Linked DNA regions of Homo sapiens. The protein of the gene in region 1 interacts with the protein of each later gene in a pairwise test. Each region holds a gene or a part of one and is shown in the gene's direction. Other genes may lie near its edges.

Evidence for each region.
Region 2: the proteins of PAX2 (region 1) and BBS7 interact in a two-hybrid assay, tested with the Homo sapiens proteins (one study listed by BioGRID and IntAct).
Region 3: the proteins of PAX2 (region 1) and LMX1B interact in binary tests that used the Homo sapiens proteins (3 or more experiments, as listed by UniProt).

What each region holds. Positions count from the first base shown.
Region 1 is NC_000010.11:100,825,019-100,830,444, forward strand, and holds the end of PAX2 (paired box protein Pax-2), read left to right. Parts: intron 1-1,990; coding exon 1,991-2,077; intron 2,078-2,524; coding exon 2,525-2,601; coding exon of another isoform or gene 2,602-2,665; 3' UTR 2,666-4,926; downstream 4,927-5,426. UniProt on the Homo sapiens protein: Transcription factor that may have a role in kidney cell differentiation. Has a critical role in the development of the urogenital tract, the eyes, and the CNS.
Region 2 is NC_000004.12:121,839,244-121,846,806, reverse strand, and holds part of BBS7 (BBSome complex member BBS7), read left to right. Parts: intron 1-1,110; coding exon 1,111-1,303; intron 1,304-2,805; coding exon 2,806-2,880; intron 2,881-7,110; coding exon 7,111-7,176; intron 7,177-7,563.
Region 3 is NC_000009.12:126,693,928-126,700,927, forward strand, and holds part of LMX1B (LIM homeobox transcription factor 1-beta), read left to right. Parts: intron 1-1,911; coding exon 1,912-2,076; intron 2,077-2,366; coding exon 2,367-2,524; 3' UTR 2,525-7,000. UniProt on the Homo sapiens protein: Transcription factor involved in the regulation of podocyte-expressed genes. Essential for the specification of dorsal limb fate at both the zeugopodal and autopodal levels.

The sequences.
Region 1 (5,426 bases):
CAAGTCTGTGCCCGAGGAGCACTCAGCCTCAGCTCCACCCTCAGTGCCCAGCCCACCCCAGCCAGCTGACACTGCTTGGAAGAGCCTGCCCTGGTTTCCATGGAAACTTGGAGCCAAGAACCATTTCCAGGGGCATGTCAGTCACTCAGACAAAGCCACCCTGGTCCACACCAAGACACAAGGGAAGACCAATGTTGAGAACCAACCCCAACCCCAACCCAGAGACAGTAGGGAGCTAGTCCCTAAGAGGAATGGAGGTCAGGCTGCGGCGGGAAGCAGGGAGAGTCGCTGCAGTGAGACAGGCTAGAACACCCCTATACCTCTTCAGAGGCACCCAGCCTTCCATTGCTTCCCTGGGGCTCTGACCCATCCCTAATCAGAGGAGTTGGGTTTGGGTTGTTTGAATCAGAGAGACAGAGGCTGTATTTAAGGTCTGGTGACTGCAGCTGGAGGTTGTACTATACCTAACCCCTAACCCCAGATTGGGAGCAGGGTCTTGAAGCCAAAGAGAGTTGAAGTTCCTATGTGCACAAACACCAAAACACTCTTGTCTTAAGGAGGGTTAGACTCACTCAGCCAGCAACTCACTCCCTCTGGCCGCCCTCTATGTGGCCTTTCCCTGAAGTTCAACTCTCATTGGTATGGGGAATGGGGAGGATAGAAGAGAGTGGTTGGCCCCATCCATCCAGGGACATTTAGGTATAACCCTGGGTAAGCAGAGCTTGGGGTAGGGGCAGCGGCAAAGAGGGAGATTGCTGCTGGGTCTTATGGACTAGGGGCTGAAGGGAGTTAGAGGTGTGGGTAAAGGGATTCCTGCCCAGATTTAGGGGAAGGAAAGTAGAAGCCTTGTTGGGAGGCAAGGAGATTTTAGGGAGAAACTCCCAGCAGTGAGCAGGTGGGGGCTGGAGGAGGTTTTAAAGAGGTGGGGTGAGGGAAGAGTGGGGAGGTGGGGGCAGGGAGTCTGCAGGGAGGTGGGGAAGAGGGGAGCCGCAGAGAGCTCGTGGTGTCGAGGGGGGAGTCGTTAAACAGAATCTAGTGCTGATGAGGAAATTACACTTGTTTCATTAGCGATGGGGAAGGAGATAGCTCAGTTCCTCTTGGTCACAGTTGAGCTCAGAAGCTCATTATCCTGCTGCACGCATGCTTTCCCTCCTCGTCAATAAACAGGCTTTCCAGTGGCTGCATCCCCCACCCCCACCCCAGCTCCCTCTCAGAGAGGGGCCCCTTCTCCTCTACTTAACCCGCGGTTAGGGATCACTGTAAACAGTCTGGGGTCATCACACAGGAGAAAGGGCGAGGGGGAAACCTGGAGGCCTGGCCTTTCTCCCGCAGAGGGAGGGAGGTAGCTTCCGACGACGGCTCCCAACCCACGGGCCCTCCGCTCACCGCTAGCGGACCAGCGGGCAGTCCACCTGCGCCGCCTCCATCCCCTGCCGCGTAGCCCACGCATCCAACCTCTTGAGGGAAAGGCGGGAGGGCGGTGTCTCCCAAAAGAGCTCCCACCTCTTGTGTTGGCACTGCACATTGATGCCATTCTTAGGACTTTCTGGGAGAAAAATGTCCCGAAGGCCTTTCTTCGCCACCGCCCCCCACTCCCATTTCCACCCATTAGGGGCCATGCCTCCTAGAACCGGAGTGGCATCTATAAAGGCCCTGGCCCCCAGCGCGACAGGGTGGACGCGCCCCAATACAAACCCTTCGTGGGTGGCCGCGAGCGCCTCCGCTGGGAAGCCCTGGGCGGGCACCGGCCCACAGGTCCCGCCCGTGGGTGTGCGAGCGCGTCGGTGCCTCCCGCCTCCCCGGGCTCTCTCCACGCGGACGCGGTGATCGCCCCACCTCCGCCCGGCCCGCCCGCCACGGCCATTACCCTGCCCGCGACACCTGCGCCTGAGACCCGGCGGGAGGAGCGGGCGGAGAAGCCACCGGCCGGACTCGTGGGGTCCGCCCTGGCTTGCAGGCGTCTGATCCCCACTCCCCGACCCTCCCGCAGGGAGCGAGTTCTCCGGCAACCCGTACAGCCACCCCCAGTACACGGCCTACAACGAGGCTTGGAGATTCAGCAACCCCGCCTTACTAAGTGAGTACGCCACCTGGCTGGCCGGCGGCTCAGCGCGGCCGCGCGGCTTCTGGGCACGGTCCCACTCCCGGCGACCCGACCTCTGGGGACCCGGCCGGGCCAGGGGGACAGGCTTGTTAGTGCAGCACTGAGGCCCGGGGACCCCTCGAGGACGCCCGCACCTCCTGCCCTCCCGTGCCCTCCCTGGTCGCTCGAAGGCTCTGCGCCGCCCTCGCCCTCGGATCCCCTGGAGGGTGCGCAGCCGGGCGTCACCAGATCGGGTCCCTCTCATGCCCCGTGAACGCAACTATTCTCCGGGGCAACTGGCTCCACTGCCCAGCCAAGGTCTCCCAGTCCGGATCCCGCTGGACCCCAGCCAGGGGAGGTCTTTTCTGTGCTTTTCTTTCCTTTTTTGTTCTCCTGTTTGTCCTCTCACCCAGCCCATTCTTCTCCTGTGTTAACTTCCAGGTTCCCCTTATTATTATAGTGCCGCCCCCCGGGGCTCCGCCCCTGCCGCTGCTGCCGCTGCCTATGACCGCCACTAGTTACCGCGGGGACCACATCAAGCTTCAGGCCGACAGCTTCGGCCTCCACATCGTCCCCGTCTGACCCCACCCCGGAGGGAGGGAGGACCGACGCGACGCGATGCCTCCCGGCCACCGCCCCAGCCTCACCCCATCCCACGACCCCCGCAACCCTTCACATCACCCCCCTCGAAGGTCGGACAGGACGGGTGGAGCCGTGGGCGGGACCCTCAGGCCCGGGCCCGCCGCCCCCAGCCCCGCCTGCCGCCCCTCCCCGCCTGCCTGGACTGCGCGGCGCCGTGAGGGGGATTCGGCCCAGCTCGTCCCGGCCTCCACCAAGCCAGCCCCGAAGCCCGCCAGCCACCCTGCCGGACTCGGGCGCGACCTGCTGGCGCGCGCCGGATGTTTCTGTGACACACAATCAGCGCGGACCGCAGCGCGGCCCAGCCCCGGGCACCCGCCTCGGACGCTCGGGCGCCAGGAGGCTTCGCTGGAGGGGCTGGGCCAAGGAGATTAAGAAGAAAACGACTTTCTGCAGGAGGAAGAGCCCGCTGCCGAATCCCTGGGAAAAATTCTTTTCCCCCAGTGCCAGCCGGACTGCCCTCGCCTTCCGGGTGTGCCCTGTCCCAGAAGATGGAATGGGGGTGTGGGGGTCCGGCTCTAGGAACGGGCTTTGGGGGCGTCAGGTCTTTCCAAGGTTGGGACCCAAGGATCGGGGGGCCCAGCAGCCCGCACCGATCGAGCCGGACTCTCGGCTCTTCACTGCTCCTCCTGGCCTGCCTAGTTCCCCAGGGCCCGGCACCTCCTGCTGCGAGACCCGGCTCTCAGCCCTGCCTTGCCCCTACCTCAGCGTCTCTTCCACCTGCTGGCCTCCCAGTTTCCCCTCCTGCCAGTCCTTCGCCTGTCCCTTGACGCCCTGCATCCTCCTCCCTGACTCGCAGCCCCATCGGACGCTCTCCCGGGACCGCCGCAGGACCAGTTTCCATAGACTGCGGACTGGGGTCTTCCTCCAGCAGTTACTTGATGCCCCCTCCCCCGACACAGACTCTCAATCTGCCGGTGGTAAGAACCGGTTCTGAGCTGGCGTCTGAGCTGCTGCGGGGTGGAAGTGGGGGGCTGCCCACTCCACTCCTCCCATCCCCTCCCAGCCTCCTCCTCCGGCAGGAACTGAACAGAACCACAAAAAGTCTACATTTATTTAATATGATGGTCTTTGCAAAAAGGAACAAAACAACACAAAAGCCCACCAGGCTGCTGCTTTGTGGAAAGACGGTGTGTGTCGTGTGAAGGCGAAACCCGGTGTACATAACCCCTCCCCCTCCGCCCCGCCCCGCCCGGCCCCGTAGAGTCCCTGTCGCCCGCCGGCCCTGCCTGTAGATACGCCCCGCTGTCTGTGCTGTGAGAGTCGCCGCTCGCTGGGGGGGAAGGGGGGGACACAGCTACACGCCCATTAAAGCACAGCACGTCCTGGGGGAGGGGGGCATTTTTTATGTTACAAAAAAAAATTACGAAAGAAAAGAAATCTCTATGCAAAATGACGAACATGGTCCTGTGGACTCCTCTGGCCTGTTTTGTTGGCTCTTTCTCTGTAATTCCGTGTTTTCGCTTTTTCCTCCCTGCCCCTCTCTCCCTCTGCCCCTCTCTCCTCTCCGCTTCTCTCCCCCTCTGTCTCTGTCTCTCTCCGTCTCTGTCGCTCTTGTCTGTCTGTCTCTGCTCTTTCCTCGGCCTCTCTCCCCAGACCTGGCCCGGCCGCCCTGTCTCCGCAGGCTAGATCCGAGGTGGCAGCTCCAGCCCCCGGGCTCGCCCCCTCGCGGGCGTGCCCCGCGCGCCCCGGGCGGCCGAAGGCCGGGCCGCCCCGTCCCGCCCCGTAGTTGCTCTTTCGGTAGTGGCGATGCGCCCTGCATGTCTCCTCACCCGTGGATCGTGACGACTCGAAATAACAGAAACAAAGTCAATAAAGTGAAAATAAATAAAAATCCTTGAACAAATCCGAAAAGGCTTGGAGTCCTCGCCCAGATCTCTCTCCCCTGCGAGCCCTTTTTATTTGAGAAGGAAAAAGAGAAAAGAGAATCGTTTAAGGGAACCCGGCGCCCAGCCAGGCTCCAGTGGCCCGAACGGGGCGGCGAGGGCGGCGAGGGCGCCGAGGTCCGGCCCATCCCAGTCCTGTGGGGCTGGCCGGGCAGAGACCCCGGACCCAGGCCCAGGCCTAACCTGCTAAATGTCCCCGGACGGTTCTGGTCTCCTCGGCCACTTTCAGTGCGTCGGTTCGTTTTGATTCTTTTTCTTTTGTGCACATAAGAAATAAATAATAATAATAAATAAAGAATAAAATTTTGTATGTCACTCCCCATGGCTCCAAGTTTGTCTCTCCCTGTCTCTGAGATGGGCCTCCCCTCCATTGGTCGATCCCCAAAAGCCCCTTCAATGATCCTCCCAACTACACTCCCGCTGCCACCTCCAACTCCTTTGCCGAGACCCCCTTGGCGGCAGCTGAACCACGGCGAAGGCCGAGACTAGCCTGCCCTTTAGTAGCCACCCTCCCCCACGCACCCCGGCCCTGGGGACAGGAAGTTCTTACTCTCCGAAACTTCAGAATAACTCCTAGTTAGGCGCCTATACTAGGCCAACTCTGTGGTCCTACCAGTACACCCGCACCCAGATTTAGGGTGCTGGCTCTCAGAACCCGAAGTCTGAGGCCTTCTCCACGTGGGTGGAGGGGTGGTCGTCTGTCCTATCTCCTCCCTCCGTTCCCTATCCAGTGCAGTTGCGCGTGGGCGCAGCAGCAATTTTATCCCCGAAGTCTGCAATGAAACGCGAAGACCGCAGACGCTTGCCGCAAGTTTCCT
Region 2 (7,563 bases), on another chromosome or scaffold:
TTGTGGAGTGAAGGATGATTTTTTTCTGGTGGTAGTTGAAGGCTACAGAAACTTTTAAGGCAGCAAATGCCACAAGTACTAGTAGCACAAGCCGTTTCACCAAAGCCACCAGAGAGCAAACTGTAATGTTCATGCAAACAAGTATACCAGATTCATTCAGGATATCCTACTTCATGCAACAAGGATACAAGTATAGTTAATGACTACTCTCTCACATCCTCAATACATTACCTTTTTTTTATAACCAAGTCTACCATTTCTTGATTCCACTGGAATGTAAGCTTTATGAGAAACTTATATCTGATTTGTTCATTTGATACCCAAACACTGCTAGGTACATAGGAGTAAATATGTAATATTTAGCAGTAAATATTTCTTTGATGAATGAATCTTTTCCTTTGTTCATTACACAGATCCCTTCTAAGCTCCTCCCTAGACTTTTCCTCCTAAACTGTGGCTAGTTAAGCCTCATGTTGTTCTATCCCAATGACTGTTTACTCCATTTGCATGTGGCCCTTCCCCTTAACTGGAGCTCTAAGCAATGCTGTAGTTCAGTCTCAGCAGAATCCTCTCTAACTCTTGGTAGTTAAGCCATACCACTGGCTCATGATCATCCTTGTGGTCCCCAAAATGCTAATGCTCTGCAGCTTCCTTTTTATTTTTTATGTCTCCCCTAATGTCTTACTGAAAGTTACGTGTTTACTGGCTTCACACATTTTGTCTCTTTTCATTAAGACTAATATGTTCTGCAATATTAGTTTCTCTTCTCATTAGTATAAGAAGTTTCTCTTCTGATTAGTACTTTATGTAACTGTAACAAGATTCCTGTGTTAAGATTATTTTGTAGCCTACCATGATATTTAAAACTCTCTATTAATATTGCTAGTATGGGAATGAGTAGATATTTTAATTTTGGGGTTAAGGATAAATAATGTGGAATCATTTAGTCAGTCATAGAAGCAAAAATTTTGCTCCCTTTGTTTTTATTTTATTAACTCAACCAATAAAAACCCATTTTGTAAAAGCAAATGTCTCAAATTTTTGTAAACATCCTAACGACCTCAAATGTTTATACTTATATTTGACAAATTTGTATGTGTTTTTCTCCAGGAATGAGTTGGAACATTTGCAGTATAAGGTATTGCAGGAAAGAGAGAATTATCAACAGTCTTCTCAATCAAGCAAAGCAAAATCAGCAGTACCTTCCTTTGGTATAAATGATAAATTTACACTAAATAAAGATGATGCCAGTTACAGCCTTATCTTAGAGGTACAGACTGCAATAGATAATGTCTTAATACAGGTAAGCAAAATGTCTAATTTCTTAGTTTTATGACTGGATCTATTTTGCAAACCAGTCATATGTACTAATTATTATTGAACATTTTTAGTTTTAGACAGTAATTTTATTTTATTTTTATTTTTATTTTTATTTTTTTGAGACAGAGTTTTACTCTGTCACCTAGACTGGAGTGCAGTGGTGCGATCTCAGCTCACTGTAACCTCCGACTCCCAGGTTCAAGTGATTCTCCTGCCTCAGCCTCCCGAGTAGCTGGGACTACAGGTATGTGCCACCACACCTGGCTAATTTTGTATTTTTAGTAGAGACGGGGTTTCACCATGTTGGCCAGGCTGGTCTTGAACTCCTGACCTCTGGTGATCCACCCGCCTCGGCCTCACAAAGTGCTGGGATTGCAAGCGTGAACCACCCCACCCAGTCATAGACAGTAATTTTAAATGTTTATGGCCTTTTATTCTTCCTTTAGATAATTGGTTTGCTCACAGATTATTTGAATTATATTTTTACTTTTTATTTATGTACTTAACAAACAAAAGATGGGCTTCAGTTTTAAGAAGAGTTAGAAAAGACAGTAAGGTTTTTCTTCTTTGGCTACCCTCTGGGAGAATCTTAACAGAGATGTGACTTAGAAAACTACCATATTTAATGCCCTTGCTAGAACATTTTTTTTTAAAGCCCCAAACATTAAAGTACAGCTTGCTCATTAACCCAACAGTTTCTGGTAGGTCAACAGGCAAAGTAGAGAATACTAAAGGGTGAAATTTAGGGATAATAATATATGACTCCATTCATCAATGTATATATTTACTGACTTATTTAAATTAGAAGGTATTCAGGAAGTAGAAAAGAATAATAGGATGAATAGAAAACAAACAAAAGGTAGTAAACCAATCACAAAATGAGAACATAACAAATTGGAGGAAGAAAAGGTTTAAAAAGATGTAATGGAGAGATCAGATTATTAAAAAAAAAACCTAAAGGCAGAAAACTCTCTTAAGTAATGCTAGCTCACGGGCTGTTGCATTGAACAACTCTAGGAATGCCATTCACATAGGACAGTGCAACAGCTTTGTCCTACAAACTGCCTCTCCAGAGGAGACCAAAAATTATCTTCTTTCTGTGTTACAGGTAAAATTAAAACTGATAAAAATGAACTGATACAATCAGAATGGCCATGTGATTATTTATAGCTCATGGTAACATTTTTAGCACTTTATAAAAATAAGTGGGATGATTGGACTTTTAAGGGGGTGGTGAGAGATGTTATTCTGTGATTTTTATAATCCAAGTTAGAAAAAAGCAGGTGATTGTAAAATAACATTTATTCTTTATTATATTTATTTTCTGGAAGTATATACTATCAAGTATAAGTTAAGAGAATTCATACTCTCAAATTTAAAGATGAATATAAACTAGAACTAAGGAGAACTCTTAGAGAAAACATAATTTATGAACATTTTTAGGTTTTCCATCTCAACCTTCTTTTTTTTTAATATTGACTATAGAGTGATGTTCCAATAGATTTACTTGATGTGGATAAAAATTCTGCTGTTGTTAGCTTTAGCAGCTGTGATTCTGAGGTGAGTAAAAATATAAAAGAATTCTTCACATGCTTTCATTTCTATTATGCCATTTTGATTAAAGTCTATAGATGCTGCTAGGTTTTGATGTTTCTTTTTCAATTATTTCTTATGTAACCTTTCCTTCAAAATCTGTGTCGGTTCTCTTTCCCTGTCCTCAGTCGAGAAACCTGATGTCCTAGATTCCTTCTTTTCTGTGATCTGTTACAGGTTGATATCCCTTATGTGAAATGCTTGGGACCAAGAAGTATTTTGGATTTTGGATTTTTTTCAGGTTTTGGAATATTTGTTTTGTATTTACTGGTTCAGCACCCCAAATTTGAAAATCTGAAATCTGAAATGCTCCAATGAGCGTTTCCTTAAAGTATTATCTTGGCACTCAAAAAGTTTAGAGTTTTGGAACATTTTAGATACTCAGTTTGGGAATGTTCAGCCTATATATCCAATTAGTCACTAGTTTCTGTCAGTTCTACCTCCATGGCTTTCATACTTCCACTTGGCTTCATTCCTACCCCTGTTAACTTAGTCCAGGCCCTTATCATGTCTTGCTTGAACTACTTTATAAGTTTCTCTGCCTCTAGTCTTGCCTCTGACTTCTAGGATATGCTGTATGTACACTACCACCAGAGACGTCTTCCTTCCTAAAACACGAACATCACTGTATCTTTCTTTTCTCAAAACCTTTTCAATATTCCTGATTTCCTGCTAGATATAAATATAGATTCCTTATTGTGGCATAGAAAACTTTCCATGATTCAGCTCTTGATTACATCTCTAACTTCTCTCTCACCGGCTGCTACCACCCCTCCCATGCACATTATTTCTGCCAAACTGAAGTTCTTAAAATTCCTGAAAATGCTATATAGTTTCACACATCCCTGCATTGGAACATGATCTGTTGCTTCCCCCGCTCTTCCTGCCCTGCCCCACTTTTTCTAGGCTTGTTGAATGCATACTAAACTTCATTCAACAGACTTTTATTGAGCACTTAACGTGCACAGTACCTGAGATGATCACGTCAGTGCTTTTGGACATGCTTACTGTATCACTTCTTTCTGCTTAGTACTAGCCGATAAGCAGTCTCAGAGCTAGGTGTGACTCCTGAAGAGAAGTCAAGGTATAGATAAGGTTTGGATTAATTGCATTGTAGAAGGCAAGCCAGAGCAGGAGGAGATGGTAACTGGAGTTGGTGGTTAGTTATATTAATATATATTTTATTTTATTTATATGCATTGGCACTGTTGCAGAATATATTTTATTTATTTGGTTTTTGTTATTTATTTACTTTTTTAAGACATGGTCTCGCTCTGTTGCCCAGGCTGGAGTGCAGTGGCGTGATCATGGCTCGCTGCAGCCTCGACCTCCTTGGCTCAAGCAGATCCTCCCACCTCAGCCTTCCAAGTAGCTGGGACTACAGGCACAAGCCACCATGCCTGGCTGATTTTTAAATTTTTTGTAGAGACAGGGTCTTCCTATGTTGCCCAGGCTGGTCTCAAACTCCTGGGCCTAAGTGATCCTCCCACCTCAGCCTCCCAAAGTGCTGGGATTATAAGCATGAGCCACCACGTCTGGCCTTATATATATATTTTTAAAAAGGAGGAATAAAAGAGTAGATAAAGTAAAATATTGATAGATAAAAGAATAATTTTCTTTTTCTTTTTTTTTTTTTTTTTTTGAGATGGAGTCTCACTCCTCACCCAGGCTGGAGTGCAGTGGCACAATCTCAGCTCACTGCAACCTCCGCCTCCCAGGTTCAAGCAATTCTCCTGTCTCAAGACTCCCAAGTAGCTGGGACTACACGCACACGCCACCACACCCGGCTAATTTTTGTATTTTTAGTAGAGATGGGTTTTTGCCATGTTGGTCAGGCTAGTCTTGAACTCCTGACCTCAGGTGATCCACTGGCCTTGGCCTCCCAAAGTGCTGGGATTACAGGTGTGAGCCACTGTGCCCAGCCTGTTTTTCAATATAACTTCATAGTAAAAATTTTATTTTTAATAAGCGATTTTATAACAGTTGTATTATATTATCAATATGTGGTTTGTCGTTCCTGTTTGAGAACAAAACACAAAAGATATGGCCTACATTTTTATGATTATTTAGAAAATCAGTAAACTTAAAACAAACTTAAAATCTTTGATTCTTAAGTTACTATGAAAGATTAATCTGTTTTAATTACATCACTGAAGGATTCTTTGAAATGACTATTTGATACTAATTTAAAATATATTTTCTAGGACAATGGCTTTAAAAAAACGTATGGAGGTTTCAAGTATACACAAAAGTAGAAAGACTAGTATAATAACTTGCATGTACCCATCACTAATTTTCAACATATGGTTAGTCTTTTTTTTTTTTAAAAGATGGGGGTCTTACTGTGTCACCCAGGCTGGAGTGCAGTGGCGTGATCATAGCTTATTGCAGCCTGAAACTTCTGGGCTTAAGCTTATCTTCTTGTCTCAGTCTCCTGAGTACGTAGGACCATAGGCATATGCCATGATGCCCAGCTAATTTTTTTTATTTTTTATTTTTTGTAGAAATGGGGCCTCACTTTGTTGCCCAGGCTGGTCTTGAACTCCTAGCTTCAAGCTGTCCTTCCACCTTCCAGCCTCCCAAAGTGCTGGGATTACAGGTGTGAGCCACCATGCCCAGCCCAGTCATTTTTTCATGCTCTTCACCCTCTCCTTCCCACTCCCAAACCTCATCCCAAACATGTTATCTGTATCATTTATTGATAAACACTGTAGTATATAACGTTTGCTTTTAATCATACAAGAACACATTTACGGCTTGGCACCGTGGCTCATACGTGTAATCCCAGCACTTTGGGAGCCCAAGGCAGGTGGATCACTTGAGGCCAGGAATTCAAGACCAGCCTGGCCAACATGGTAAAACACCCTCTTTACTAAAAATACATAACAAGTAGCTGGGTGTGGTGGCATGCACCTGTAGTCCCAGCTATTTGGGAGGCTGAGGTATGAGAGTCAGTTGAGCCCAGGAGGCAGAGGTTACATTGAGCTGAGATCACACCACTGCACTCTAGCCTGGGCAACACAGCAAGACTCTGTCTCAAAAAAAAAAAAAAAGAATATATTTACTTTTAAATTGATCAGTCCTCTCTGTTGAGTTTAAATGATTTGAAATTGAAATGTTTGAGTTTTATATTTTATATTACCATCCTTTTTATTTCTTTGATTATTTAATAAAAATAGAGAAATAGCAGTCTCAAAAATTACATATAAATTATCTTATGTTGCTGTGTCTCTTTTTGTAATCCATGAACCTAGCTACATTTCTCTATTTCTAGTAGTTTAATATTCAATTTCAAGAAGTTATAATATTTGAAAAAACTCCTCTAGGTTAGTTCAACAAACATGTATTAAGCACTTACAGTATGCCAGGCACTGTGCCATTTGCTGGGAATACAGAGAAGAGATATTTCTCTTTCCTGTATAAGTATTTGTGAAAAATCTAAGAGATTCAATATTAAACTCTGGTGTATGTGCCTTTACAGTATAAACATTTTGTATTAGTCCATTTTCACACTGCTGATAAAGACATATCCAAGATGGGACAATTTACAAAAGAAAGAGGTTTATTGGACTCACAGTTCCACCTGGCTGGGGAGGCCTCACAATCATGGCGGAAGGTGAAAGGCACATCTCACATGGCGGCAGACAAGAGAAAATGAGAGCCAAGAGAAAGGGGTTTCCCCTTATAAAACCATCAGATCTTATTCACTACCATGAGAGCAGTATGGGAGAAAATGGCCCCATGATTCAATTATCTCCCACTGAGTCCCTCCCACAACACATGGGAATTATGGCAGTACAATTCAAGATGAGATTTGAATGGGGACAGAGCCAAACCATATCACATTTGGTGTTTGCATTGTCAGATTTTTAGAAGAATTCTTAATGTTTAAAAATGTTATTGTAAAAACTCAAGATGGAAAGAGCATGAGCTTTCGATAGGAATTTGAATTCCAGTTTCATCACTTAATGGCTTTTATTTAACTCCTCATAACCTCAGTTTCTTCATCTGTTAAAATTTAATTAGTAAAACTTAGTGCATAGAGTTTTTGTAAGTGTAAGTTAGAACATGTTTGAAAAGCGCTGAGCACCAATGACAGGTGCTTAAGCAAATGGTAACCATTATTATTATTGATGTCTTTTTTTTGTTGCTAAAAACATGGATTCATTCTTTTCCTCCACTTTGTATTCTTCCCAGTCAAACGACAACTTCCTTCTTGCCACTTATCGGTGCCAGGCAGATACTACAAGGCTGGAACTCAAGGTAAAAATATTAGAAATTACCTTTACTTGAATGTTTGAATTTCCTTTTTCCTGCTGGTATGTCTTACAACATATGATATTATTTGTTTGCATTTAATTTCTCCCTGAAATGAATTGTTTGGAGTAATGAATTTTGAATGACCAGTTAGGATGTAATTTAGCCCACACCACAATCTCTGCTATTACTTCTTAATCACCTTCTCTAAAATTATTGATTTTATTTTTTAAATAGAAACTGGATTTTGCCATGTTGCCCAGGTTGGTCTCAAACTCCTGAGCTGAAGCAATCCACATGCCTCAGCCTCCCAAAGTGCTGGGATTACAGGGGTGAGCCACCATGCCCGGCCTAAAATTATTGGTCTTAAAGTTTCCTCTAACTGAAAAATTT
Region 3 (7,000 bases), on another chromosome or scaffold:
GCTGGGACCGGGGCTGCACCTGTCCCAGGGCTAGGGACAAAGGGGCCCGGGATGTTTCTTTTAACAAAACTTCTCAAAAGCCTTCCACCAAGGCCATCAGATCCCAGGGAACTTCTGCTTTAAAACCACTGAGACAGAGAAATAGAGAAGCCATGGGGACTAGGGGACCCAGGGAGGAGAGATGGCAGAGTGGCTGCCTGGAGGGTTGGCAGAATTTCTGCAATCAGAACAGCAACAGTCTACTCACACTCACTGCGTGCAGACACGGGTCTCAGCCTTCAGCACACCCCATCTCACCCTGTCCTCATAAATCACTGCAAGGGGGGGTATTGCCATGTCCCATTTCACAGATGAGGAAACTGAGGGACTGCCTGGGATCCCTCAGCCAGTAAGGCAAAGCTGGACCTCAGCCCCAAGCCTGGAGCTCAAGCCTGTACCTTTAACAGGATGACACTACCCCACTGCCGGAATTCTGCAGACAAAGCTTGTCAGGGCGTGAAGGGCCTGGGGAGTCGGGAGGGACTAGCTGCAGGGGCATGAGTCAGGCCCCCTCATCACTGGGCTTTACCAAAAATCGTGTTTCCACATCAGAATCTTGAGCCAGGGCTGGTCTCCTGGGCCTTCAAAGCCATGAGGGAGGAGCAGGGAGCTCCCTGGGACTGCTGAAGCAGGCGGGGGACAGAGCTGCCTGCGCCCTGGTGAGAGGGAGGCTTCTGGGCAGGTGCCAGGGCACCAATGGGCAGATACCAGGGCACTGGGGGCCAGGCCAGTGTCCCAGGCTGGACTTGGCTTCTAATGACACAGCCTTAGTGCCTGCTGCTTCCTCGCTTCCCCCTCTGCCCCTCCTGGGGCTGCAGTCACTGCCTCTGGTCTCCCAGCCATGTCCTGGGCTATGTCTCACCCCTCAGTGTTCCTAGCTGCTTCCTGGACACAGCCTCCCTGAGAAGGTCCCACAGTCCCCCCAGCTCATCCCAACCCATGCCGTATGCTCCATCCTGCCCACACGCACATGGCATGCCCTGCTCCTCCCCACCCTTCTCTGCAAATGGCACCACCATCCGCCCTGTCCGAGCCAGGAACCAGGAGTCACCTCTGACCTTCCCCATCCCACACTGCTGATCCACTGAGGTGCCAAGTTGGGGAGTGAAGTCTTCTCATGTCTCTCGCACCCTCCTAGGAGCTGTCTCTCCCACAGCCACCTTGACAGAGACCCCACCCTTCCTCTGGCTTCCTCACCCACTGGCCCCAGCCTCGGTCTCCTCCTCCAGCCTTTCTCACCCTCGTCTACCAAACCCTCCAGCGGCTCCCAGCGGCCTCGGGGACCCCCACCCAGCTCGGCACCCCAGGGCTCCCCATGACCTGTGGTCCCTCTCAGCTGGTCTCCCCCACACCGACCTCTCTCCCTGCCTCTTGGCCCCACGTGCTGCACCCTCACTTACCCGGCGGTCTGTCTCCTCCATGCCTTTGCCGCCCCTCAGCCTGGCTTGCCTCCCCTGCTCTGGCCTGTTGAGCCCCTGCTAGTTCTTTAAGTCACATCAGGGCGGGGGCCCTTTCCTCCAGGAAGTCTTCCCGGGGCCTTTTTGGCCTGGGTCTGGGACCTTGGTGCTCCCAGATGCAGCGCAGAATCACTATTGCCTGTGTGGGGTCTGCCGCCTCCCTGGATCCCCTGGAGGGGCGGGGTGGTGGGAGGAAAGAAGATGAGGAGGGGAGGACTCTGGCTTTTGGTAAGCTGAGCCTGGAGGAGGAGCTGGAGTGTGCACCTGGGGAAGGGGCTGGGGAGTCAGTGTCTGGACAGCTTCAGCCAGAGTGGGGTGCCTGGGGAGTCCCAAGGAGATCAGAAGGGGAGGCTGCTGGGGTGTAGCTGGGAGGGCGTGGACCAGGCCAGGGGGTGAAGGCTCACTGTGCCCCCAGAGGTCCTGTCCAGCCGCATGGAGGGCATGATGGCTTCCTACACGCCGCTGGCCCCACCACAGCAGCAGATCGTGGCCATGGAACAGAGCCCCTACGGCAGCAGCGACCCCTTCCAGCAGGGCCTCACGCCGCCCCAAATGCCAGGTGACCACATGAACCCCTATGGTAAGCCGCCCTACCCCCACCCGCCCGCCCCAGCACAGCCCCTGCCCCCTGCCAGGCCAGGCAGGCCTGGGGCCAGGACAGCCACCTGCTGCCCTAGGGCTCAGGCAGCATGGCCAGCACAGCCCTCCTGCCCCTGCTGACAGGAAGGGCCCCAGTCCTTCTTGGCCGGCACTAGTCAGCAGGCCATCCTGTCTCTCCCTGGCCTCCAGTCACACAGCCTACAGGGCAAACAGGGGGCCCCCAGGAGCCCCAGCCTGTACCCCGGTCCTGACACCCCTTCTGCCCCCCAGGGAACGACTCCATCTTCCATGACATCGACAGCGATACCTCCTTAACCAGCCTCAGCGACTGCTTCCTCGGCTCCTCAGACGTGGGCTCCCTGCAGGCCCGCGTGGGGAACCCCATCGACCGGCTCTACTCCATGCAGAGTTCCTACTTCGCCTCCTGAGAGCCAGCCAGGCGCACGGACGCTTGGGCAGGGGCCTGGGGGGGACTGCCAGCCTCTGCGGCCAGCCTGGCCACCCCCGCCCTGCTCTCCGCACAGACTACAGACAGCCATACGGTGCCCTCCCCTCGGCCAGCTGGGCCTGACCACTGTGCCCGTTGGGTACAGCCAGACCGGTAGATGGGCACAGCCTGGGCAGGGGCTGTGTCCTGCCCACAGAGACCTTGTCATCCCCAGGGACCCAGAGCTCTCGGACGGCCACTCGCCTCCCAGCCCCACCTCGGCCTCCATCGCCTCCTCCCCATCTCTTTTTTGGGAAGCTTAAATTCTCTCTATTTTTTTAAATGTCCTCTCTGTGTCCATGGCCCTCCATGCAAGCCCCAGGACAATGGTGTCATGAGGCGGTGACCTGAGAAGCGTGTGTACCTGTGCCCCAGCAAGGGCAGGGGTGGCCTCTGGGGGCAGGCCCACTGCCTGGAACCGCACACCCCTCAGCCTGAGTCTGGAGCAGCAGTGGAGAGGGGCCTGAGGGGAGGCACTGTCAGGAGGCGGGCTCGGAGCCTGAGCCTGGGCAGGCGCAAAGGGACAGAGAGGCACGTGCAGACACATGCACACTTGCAGACAAACCCACGCAAACACACACACAGCTGTATGGGGACACCAGAAGGGACAGGGATGCTCAGCGGGTCTGTCCTGCCTTGTCAGAAAGAGAAAAGGAGGCCAGGCAGGGGACCCCCCAGTTCTTAAGAGCGATTGGAAAGGGAGGAAGGGGAGAGGAAGAGGCGAACTTGAAGCATCGGACCCAGTTGTATCCCAGCCTGGGCCCAAATGGGGGCAGCCTGGGCAGGGAGGGCAGCCCCAGGCCCCACCAACTCTAGAGGCAGATGGAGCCCCCAGAACCAGGTAGCATCAGACCAGACAACAGAGCCTCCAGGGGTCAGGGACTTCAGAAGCACCTGCTGGGCACCCCATCTGCAATGTGGTCCTCTCCCCAGCCACCTCTGCCTCCCCTCACATACCTCCAGTGACAAGGAGCTCACTAGGTCAGCGAGCCCACAGCAGCTGTGCTGTCCTGCATCCCAGAGCCAGGCTTCCCCAGCTCTCCCTCTTAACACTGTCCCCCAGCAGGCCTCCGGCTGTCCCTCTAAAGGTGTGGGGCAGGTATCACTTCACCTTCCCACTGATGTCAGCCGGCCAGAAGTGAGCAGGCACATCACCTCTCCTGCTGTGGCACCCTTCCTCTGTTAATTTGGCCCAAAAGACAATGATTTGGCCACATGACCTTAGAGATTCACCCTGCCCTGCTGTAGCTAAATCCCTGGGCCCCACACGCAAGTGACAGCTAAGCCACATCTGTTTTCTGTGTATATGCAGGATGGGGGCACCTACTGTTTTGTTTTGTTTTGTTTTGTTTTGTTTTGTTTTGTTTTGTTTTGTTTTGTTTGAGACGGAGTTTCGCTCTTGTTGCCCAGGCTGGAGTGCAATGGCGCGATCTCGGCTCACCACAACCTCCGCCTCCCAGGTTCAAGTGATTCTGATGCCTCAGCCTCCCTAGTAGCTGAGATTACAGGCATGCGCCACCACACCCAGCTAATTTTGTATTTTTAGTAGCAACGGGGTTTCTCCATGTTGGTCAGGCTGGTCTCCAACCCCCGACCTCAGGTGATCCGCCTGCCTCGGCCTCCCAAAGTGCTGGGATTACAGGCGTGAGCCACCGCACCCAGTCTGCACTTACTGTTTAGACTGAATGAGGGACCGTGACCTCTTTCCTTTTCCATTCCTTCTTACTCGATTCATTCCAGCCTGTGGAATTTCTCTGCACCCTGATTCAGTGACCACTGCTCTCCTCTCTCCCAGCACATCTGCCCAGTGAGGAGTTGGCCCTGGGTCTCACCTGAGGTGTGTGGACCGGGCTGGCCTCTCCCTGTTTGACATTGGCCCATTAATGCATCCTCTTTGGGGGACACATTCCAATTGCATTTCCTGCCCCCTTCTCCCAGGGCAATTGCAGAAGATTGTGTCAGGCGCCCTGCTGGAAGTCAGGTGCACTAGATCCATCCCCAGCCCCAGTCTGCTCAACTCTATCCCTGTCAGAGCAAGGAGGCTGGGCTGCTGGGGCCTGACTGGTGAGCCCACCCTGTCCCCTGGTGATCACTGTGTCCCCTTGTTCAGGTGCTCACAACCCTACCTTTAACTCTGAGGTCAAGCCCTAGGCCACCACCCTAAAGTCTGCCTGGTCCAACCTTTGAGCAAGTAAGGATAATGAATGTCCCTTTTCCACCTTTGGGGCCCTCTGCCTGGATCTCTGGAATCCTCTAAGTTCAACCTGTTCTGTGGTTTTGCTCCCGTTTGCTGGGAAATTCAGTCCCCCCAGAATGTCCTGGGCCAACCTCCTTGCCTGACATGTGGCCTCGTGTCACCCATTGGGCCCCAGCAGCCAGCTAGCCCTTCTGCAGCTCTTCTTACAAACAGAGCCTCTCCAAGGACCTCAGTTGATGTTCTGGTCCTTCTGCCGCCTCAGCCCACCAGGGTCCGTGCCACCATGGGTCTCTTGAGCAGCAGCTGCACTGGCTTCTGGAGAGACACCCCTCTTTCTCCTTTTGCACATGCACCATCTGAATCGTGCCAGGGACATCCTGGGCAGATTCAGGGGCAGATGCCCTATCCCCCAGGAGACCTGGCCCTTCTCTCTCAGACCCAATAAGTTGGAAGGGACGTCAGAAGCGGTCATCTCATCTGCCCCTTATTTTATAGTTGGAAACCCTGAGGCAAGAGAGGGAAAGAGGCCTGTCCAAGGTCCGGGTTAGTGACAGAGCTGAGCTGAGAACAGGGACGTTGTGCCCCACTGTCCCCTGTGGTTTGTGAATGACCTCCAGGTCAGGGGGTCACAACTTGTTCTTAGTAAACTTGCCAGCTGTTGGGGTCACATATTCCCATTCTGGGGCCTCACAAACCCCCGAATCCAGCCGGGACCCCATGCCAGGAGCTGGTCTAGGGACAGCATGCTTGTGACCCACAGACTGTTAAAGCCAGAAGGGACCTCAGAGAGTCCCTTATGCTGGAGGCGCCCTGTCAGCCGTGGCTAGGGGCCCCTTGCTCTATGCTGTGCCTTGCTGCCCACAGGCTCCCAGACACCAGTGCCCACTCTGCCCAGCCCCGGACTGGGTGTGGCTCGCAGATGAACAAGATGCAGGGCCTGCCTTGAGGGGTGTCTCCTAGAAGGAAAGCCAGACTCTCCGGCCCAGCCAGAGAGTCCAGACATGGCAGGGACCCGTTTCTCAGATGAGGAGCCTGAGGCTCAGAGAAGGGAGGCGATGTGTTCAGGGCCACCCAGCAGAAGCCTGTGGGGCTGGGCAACCTTCTCCCACTTTATGGGAGGAGCTGCAGCCTTGGCTGGGAGCTGGGCGGGGAGTAGCCAGGACCACCCCTTGCCCGTGCCGTGACATGGAACCTTCATCACTAAGGGGGCTGGAGTGGGAAGAGGGAGATAACTGTGTGGTCTCCAGAGCAAAAGAGAATGAGAGGTGGGCAGGGGGAGTCTTGGCAAAAGACCAAGTTCCACTTCCCTGCTGGGGAAGTCAAGGCTCAGAAAGAGGAAATAATTGCCCCAGGTAACACAGGGCAGAGGAGGGACAAAAAGCTGGGCATGGCCCCAGCCAGAGCCTCATCTGCCTACTCCGTGAAGCCTCCCAGGTACTCTGCTATCCTGGGAAACGCACAGGGAGGCCACACAGAGACACTGCTCACAAGAGTCAGACCAAGGTGCCAGCACAGCCTGGAAAGAGCTCAGAAAGGGGGTTGGTGCACGTGGCTGGGCATCTTAGGAGGCTTCCTGAGGGTGGGTAAAGGTGGGAAGGCCCTGGCGCTGCATCAGATGAGCAGGGCCTGGCAGGGACAAGCCTCTTCTCCTTTGGGAAGCCCTGCAGCCTCCTAGCAAGAGGCTGATTCCCCACTCTGCCCCCATCTGAATGTCCTTTTCATGTTGCACGCAGGGAACCTCAGGAAGGAGGATTGCCTGATGCCTGCCTGGCTCCATCCTTGAGCTCTGGGCACCACCTAGGGTGAGGGAGAGCCTGCAGCTCTGGGGCTAAGTCTGCCCTGGGGGGAAAGGGCTCCACGCTCACACGCACGCGCTCGCACACACACACTCACACCTGGACGCACACGGAGGCTTGCGGACCCATACTCACAGGCACATGTGGCCTGGGGACTGGGGGAGCAGGAAAGACCCCTCCAACATTTGGCCCTTGGAAGGCACCATTGCCAATGAGCCTCTTTGCTGGTTCCCCCGACCCCACCTGGGGGTCCCATGGGAGCCCAGCCCAGCCAGGTGTGGGGATGGGCCACCGGCCATTCCTGTTTTCCTTGTACAGACAGATTCTCACTACCCACCCGCCATCCCCAGACACATTTTATTTAATAACTTGTCATTGTTAAATTATTTATTAGCGTTTACCACACCACCACCCCCACCCTGCC